Homo sapiens: one gene and its partner. The protein of the gene in region 1 purifies or fractionates together with the protein of each later gene. This does not show direct contact. Each region holds a gene or a part of one and is shown in the gene's direction. Other genes may lie near its edges.

Region 1 (3,500 bases):
AGTGGGAGGATCGCTTGAGCCCAGGAGTTTGCGACCAGCATGGGCAACATTGTGAGACCTCGTCTCTACAGAAAATTAAAAAATTAGCTGGGTGTGGTGGTGCATGCCTGTTGTCCCAGCTACTGGAGAGGCTGAGGTGGGAGGATTGCTTGAACCGGGAGGCTGAGGTTGCAGGGAGTCAAGATTGTACCACTGCACTCCAGCCTGGGGGAAAGAAAAAAAAAAAAGCAAAAAAAAACTCAGGAGCTAAAAGATTGTTGACCACATTGAGGGTCCTACTAGTTAGAAATAATATATTTGTAATGGGGCCCAGGAGCATGGATTTTACACTTTCTTCAACAGCCTAAGAATAGTAGGACAAAAAAGATGGTTGGATTGATTCAAAATGGAAACTTGCAGGACAGAAAGATAAAATGGGAAGCAACTTTACACTGCTATTGATAGTGTAGGAGATATGTTTCATTCCAAGGGACCAAGCTGGGAGTTATAAGAAGCAAAATCTAGAGGGAGGCTGGTGTACTTAGAGAATAAAAAGACAATCAGAAATGTGGTTGAAGACCAGATTTTGTAAGAAATATATAATTGGACAGCCCAGAGTTCATTATTTCAAGGTAAAGACAAAAACTGGCTTAACTGTCTCAATGCTGTTGAAGGGGAATGGAGGTGTAGGTTATTGAAGTAGTGGGAGATTAGGGGGCTGTGTTGAATATGTCATCAATATGAATGTCACAGTTGTCCAGCATGATAGCAGGAGATTGAGCAGAGGAGATAGTAAGTCCTATAGGTGGGCCTGCTCACCAAGGAGGGACCCAGAGTTGGATTGGTGGTTCCTTGGCACTTGTTGAAAAGTAGTACCAAATGGTACAGATGTTTGTATATGAATTAATGGTGATATCCTCAGATACTTGATGCCCTGGATGTATGATGTGTTATTCTCTCTTACAGATATATGTTTGGGATAGACCCTCAAACACAAAAAATCCTTTGTAAGCTTGACATATGATGGGCTTTGATTCTGTTTAAAATATATGTGCTGGCTGGGTGCGGTTGCTCACACCTGTAATCCCAGCACTTTGGGAGGCCAAGGCGGGTGGATCACTTGAGGTCAGGAGTTCGAGACTAGCCTGACCAACATGGAGAAACCCTGTCTCTACTGAAAAAAAAAATACAAAAATTAGCTGGGCGTGGTGGTGCATGCATGTAATCCCAGCTACTTGGGAGGCTGAGGCAGGAGAATCGCTTGAACCCGGGTGGTGGAGGTTGCGGTTAGCCGAGATCGGGCCACTGCACTCCAGCCTGGGCAACAAGAGCGAAAGTCCGTCTCAAAAAAAAAAAATGTATATATGTGTGTGTGTGTGTGTGTGTGTGTGTGTGTGTGTGTATGCTGGGAGGCTAGGGACTCTCCACCTCAGGATCCTCAGTAACATTTTTTTATGGTTTTAGTTAATTGTGTGTGTGTGCGTTTGTTTTTTTTTTTAATTAATTTTTTTTTATGGGGTCTTGCTCTGTCACCCAGGCTGGAGTGCAGTGGCAAGATCTCGGCTCACTGCAAGCTCCGCTTCCCAGGTTCACACCATTCTCCTGCCCCTCAGCCTCCTGAGTAGCTGGGATTACAGGCGAGGGCCACCATGCAGGGCTAATTTTTGTATTTTTAGTAGAGATGGGGTTTCACCATGTTGGCCAGGCTGGTCTCAAAAGGTTTTAGTTAATTGTAAAAAGAAAATTACACATTTAAATATGCTCATCCCGGACTTATTTTGAGGAGAAAACTGACTTGCTTTTATGCTTTCTTCCCTGTATGAAAGTATTTATACATATATTCTTAGTGTCATACATTTCATTTTGTTTTGCAAAAAGAATGTAGTGTTGGAATTTGAAACCTATGGTAAAGGCATTTATGGGAATTTCATCTCCTTCTAGTAGATGAAGCCCAATTATTACATTGTATTGTGTGGGTGATGGTGAATGTTTTGACCCAACAATGGCTATTATACTATTTACAAAGTCATCATATGGAGATGACTTCAGTGTAGTCTCACTAGTGTTATTTTCCCTGAACAATCACAGGCAGTGGCTGTTTCAGAGAAAAGCCTGGTTGTAATAAGTTTTATGTCTTCCATTCCTGAAAATTTCCAAAAGGCAGTGTGATAAAAGGAAAAGAACATTAGGAAAACCTTAGTTGTATTCAACTCTGTTGTTATTAACTATATGATGGTTAATATAAAGGCAAATTACTTATCTTTTGTGAGCTTTAGTTTTTTTTTTTAAGATACATTTAATCTTTGAATAGATAATACATTCAACTGGTTATTAAATGTAAACTTTTTTAATATATAAATTTAGGGCTGGGTGCGGTGGCTCATGCCTGTAATCCCAGCACTTTGGGAGGCTGAGGCAGGTGGATCACTTGAGGTCAGGAGTTCGAGACCAGCCTGGCCAAGATGGTGAAACCCCCTTCTCTACTAAAAATATGAAACATTAGCTGGGTGAGGTGGCCTGCGCCTGCTATCTCAGCTACTTGGGAGGCTGAGGCAGGAGAATCACTTCTACCCAGGAAGTGGAGGTTGCAGTGAGCCGAGATCATGCCACTGTACTGCAGTTTAGGCGACAGAGTGAGACTCCGTCTCAAAAAAAAAAAAATAAAATAAAAAATAAATTTATATAACAGTGAAAAGTCGGCTGGGCGCGGTGGCTCATGCCTGTAATCCCAGCACTTTGGGAGGCCGAGGCGGGCGGATCACGAGGTCCGGAGATCTAGACCATCCTGACTAACACGGTGAAACCCCGTCTCTACTAAAAATACAAAAAATTAGCAGGGCGTGGTGGCACATGTATGTCGTCCCAGCTACTCAGGAGGCGGAGGCAGGAGAAGGGCGTGAACCCGGGAGGTGGAGCTTCAGTGAGCCGAGATCGCGCCACTGCACTCCAGCGTGGGCGACAGAGCGAGACTCCATCTCAAAAAAAAACAAAAAACAAAAAACAAAACAGTGAAAAATCTTACTTCCATCTCTGTTCTTTATTAACCTGGTTCCATGCCCTCTCCCAAACACTTTGAATAGTCTCTTTATATTCTTTTAGACTTTATTTTTTATTTTTAATTTAATTTGATTTAATTAATTAATTTATTTATTTTGAGACGGAGTCTCGCTCTGTTGCCCAGGCTGGAGTGCAGTGGCGCGATCTCGGCTCACTGCAAGCTCCGCCTCCCGGGTTCACGCCATTCTCCTGCCTCGGCCTCCCGAGTAGCTGGGACTACAGGCGCCCGCCACCAGGCCCGGCTAATTTTTTGTATTTTTAGTAGAGACAGGGTTTCACTATGTTAGCCAGGATGGTCTCGATCTCCTGACCTTGTGATCTACCCGCCTCGGCCTCCCAAAGTGCTGGGATTACAGACTTGGGCCACCGCGCCCGGCCCTTTATTTTTTATTTTTGAGACAAGAGTCTCACTCTGTCGCCCAGGCTGGTGTGCAGTGGCGCAGTCTCGGCTTTCTGCAACTTCC
Region 2 (3,500 bases), about 160 Mb from region 1:
ACTGGGGTACTGCAGAAGCCCGCCTAGAATGCAGGGCTCCTGGCTTTCAGTTTAGGGCTCATTCCCTTTCAGCAAATCACTGGGAATTTTTATCTTCCTAGCGTTTCCATCTCAGCAGATGTTACTTACCTCTTAGCTAGAGAGAGGAACAGAAACATATTAGGGTCAAGACAGCTATCTCTGTGATGGAAGCATCTATCAACTTTTCGAGTCTCTGGAACATGGAGAGCTAAGAAATGTGGCAATACTTGGCAAACACTTCGTCTTTCTGGCCCCTAGTCACACACAAAAAATAATAATTAAAAACACTTTTAGTTCCTTCTTCAACTTAAAAATACCCCTCCAACTAGTCTAGCGAAAAACACCCTCCACAGTAAACCGTTTCCTGGGCCTCATCTGTTCCCTTAACCTCCTGGGAAGGCTGACTCAGGCCTGATTTCCTCCGAGAGGCCTGCGATTTTGCTTCCCAGCATCCTGTGACTCTTGAGACGTGAAGCGAGGCAGGATGGCTGAGACCCAGGCCACTCTGACCTGCCTGTGGATGTGGTTCAGGTTCTTACACATGTCCTGTGCAGTTCACACTACCACCCCATCAAATCTATTTGCTCTACTTAATTTTAATATGAGATGCACTAATATGCATATAAAATTAAAGGCTCTGATGCATGTGCCTCTGCCAAGGACCGTTACTAACAAGATGATTCCACTTCAAAAGACTGCAAGACTGTTCTGATATCCAATCCTCAGATGCTCTGAAAGCTTTCATAAATGGAATTGTTTCTTAATTTCCTTTTTGGCTTGTGTATTACTGGTGTGTAGAAACACAGCTGATTTTTGTGTGTTGATCTTGTCCCTTGCAATTTTGCTGAATTTATTAGCTCTAGTAGCTTTTTTGTTTCTGGATTCTTTGGGATTTTCTATACATAGGATCATGTCAACTGTGAATAGAAATAGTTTTACGTCTTTCTTTCCAATTTGAATGATTTTTATTTATTTTTCTTGCCTAATTGCTCTGGCTAGAACTTTCAGTATAATGTTGAGTGGCAGTGGTGAAAGCAGACATCCTTCTCTTGTTCTTGATCTTAGGGGGATTTCTTGATTTTAGCCTTTCACCAGTGAGCGTGATGTTAGCTGTGGGCTTTTCATAAATGTCCTTTGTGTTGAGGAAATCATCTTCTATTTCTAGTTTTCTAATCATTTTTTTTTAATCACAAAGGGGTGTTGAATTTTATGTCAAATGCTTGTTTTCTGTATCACTCGAGATAATCCTGTGGCTTGTTTTTTGTTTCCTTCATTGTGTTAGTGTGGTGCCTTACACTGATTGTTTTTCTTAAGTTGAATCACTCTTTTAGTCCTGGGATAAATCCCTCTGAATTTTTTTTTTTTTATCTGCAAAGTTTCATTTTTTTTTCCCCTGTAAAAAGACAACAAAATTTGACTAAGTGCTAACATTTTACATTAGGATGGGTTGATGTATTTAATTATACTTTTCATTATAATTAGTGTACTTTAAACATCTAACAATTATATTGTGGTAAATATGTATAACCTACAATTTACCATTTTAGCCACTTCTAAATGTACAGTTCAGTGGCATTAAATGCATTTGCATTGTTGTATAACCATCACCTGTAGCCATCTCTGGAACTTTTTTACCTTCCCAAACTTAAACTCTGTACTCATTAAAGAGTAACTCTCCATTCCCCTTCCCTCCTCCCCAAGGCCCCGGCAACCGCCATTTTACTTCCCATCTCTATGAATTTGTGAACATTTTTTAATAACTAGAAGTTAGGCATTAAAGGGTTAAAGGGCTGTATCTTCCTGTCTTCCAGTTTCCCACCAACTCCCTCCAGCCGGAGGGGCCACCACTGGCCCTGATGCAGAGATGAACTGATTGCTGGTCATCCTGAGACTCAGAGGGCACCACGCCCAGCCTCAGCGCGGGCTTCATTTCCTCTAGCTCAGGGATTCTCCATCTTGGTTGCACATTAGCACCACCTGGGGAGCTTTTAAAAATGACCAATTCCTGGGCCCATCCCCAGAGATTCAGCTTCACTTGGTTTGGAATGTGGCTTCAGTGTCTGTCATTTTTAAAAGCTCCCTAGGTGATTTTGATGCACTGTGAGGGTTAGAACTACTCAATGGTTGAGCTGATTTACTCGCTGGAACCCTTGACTGGTCACAGCTTTCAATGACGCAATTCCCTCCCCATCTGGTCGGTAATACTGACCCACTTTACATCCCTTCCCTGATTTTAAAATCCATTTGTAAATAGAGTAAATACCAACTTCTGTAAAATGAAACTTTCAAAGTTGGAAAGAAACTTAAGTGTCATGTAGCTTTTTCTATTCCAGATACATCAAATCCCCCTAAAACATCCCCCTCAGAGGTCATCCAGCTTGGACACCTCTGTTGCTGGGGCATTCCTGCAACACTATGTTGAAATCATCTTATTCTATATTTGGACAGCTCTGTCTCTCAGAGTTCCTCATTGTATTAATCTGTCAGGGATATGACTTCCACCCATCGCTGAAAGATCCCAAAAGCTTAGTGGGCTTCACCAAAATGCATCCCTGAATAAAGTGGAGGATATTCAAAATAAGTCATGCAGAATAAGTGTGATTGCCTACAGAGTGTCAGCCTTTCAATATTTGGGAACAACTACCATGCATCTGTCCCCATCTTTTCTTCTCTGGTCTCAGCAGCCCCACTTCCTTCAGATTTTCACTGGATGTGTCCCCATGTTTTTTCAAGGAAGGTTGATATATGACGTAATAGCAAGATTGTGGACCATGACATAACTAAGACTTGAACTCAAGGTTCAAACATTGACTTTGCACCTGAAGTCCTTAGCGAGATGAGCATTTAGGAAATATTGGCAATTGAAATTATATCCTCCACATGAGCATCATCGCTACACTCTGTGTGACCTTGGGCAGGCCATGGAATCTCTTAGAGACTCTGTTTCTTCCCCAGGAAAAGTGGAATGAAAATGCCTTACTCCTGGGACAATGTTTTCCAACTTGCCTCAGCTTTCAGTCCTAACCTCTTCCTTCTCCTCCTCGTCATTCCACAACCCCACACCTGCATAGATTCCTATGATCTGGCAATTTCAAAAAATACAGTCAAAGAGTGATTGCATGAATCAAGTGAGACCATGTCAGACCTGACTCAGTCTCTGGGATGCTCAATGTGTGTGCTTAATAAATGCCAGATTTAATCTTTTTTCTTTTCTTTTTTTTTTTAATTAATTTATTTATTTTTATTTATTTATTTTTTATTTGAGACAGAATCTCTCTCTCTGTCACCCAGGCATGTAGCTTTTTCTATTCCAGATACATGTTGGCCAGGCTGGTCTCAAACTCTTGGCCTCAAGTGATCTGCCTGCCTCTGCCTCCCAAAGTGTTGAGGATTACAGGCGTGAGCCACTATGCCCAGTCTCATCCTATTTCTTACTCACCTTCCTCATTATATGCATCACCCTTTAAATGCTAGTTTCT

What was found. The genes of interacting proteins can lie anywhere in the genome.
Region 2: the proteins of TESK2 (region 1) and NAV1 purify together in Homo sapiens (affinity purification with mass spectrometry, with the first as the bait; one large-scale study listed by BioGRID). This does not show direct contact.

What each region holds. Positions count from the first base shown.
Region 1 is NC_000001.11:45,484,664-45,488,163, reverse strand, and holds part of TESK2 (dual specificity testis-specific protein kinase 2), read left to right. Parts: intron 1-3,500. UniProt on the Homo sapiens protein: Dual specificity protein kinase activity catalyzing autophosphorylation and phosphorylation of exogenous substrates on both serine/threonine and tyrosine residues. Phosphorylates cofilin at 'Ser-3'. May play an important role in spermatogenesis.
Region 2 is NC_000001.11:201,542,127-201,545,626, forward strand, and holds part of NAV1 (neuron navigator 1), read left to right. Parts: intron 1-3,500. UniProt on the Homo sapiens protein: May be involved in neuronal migration.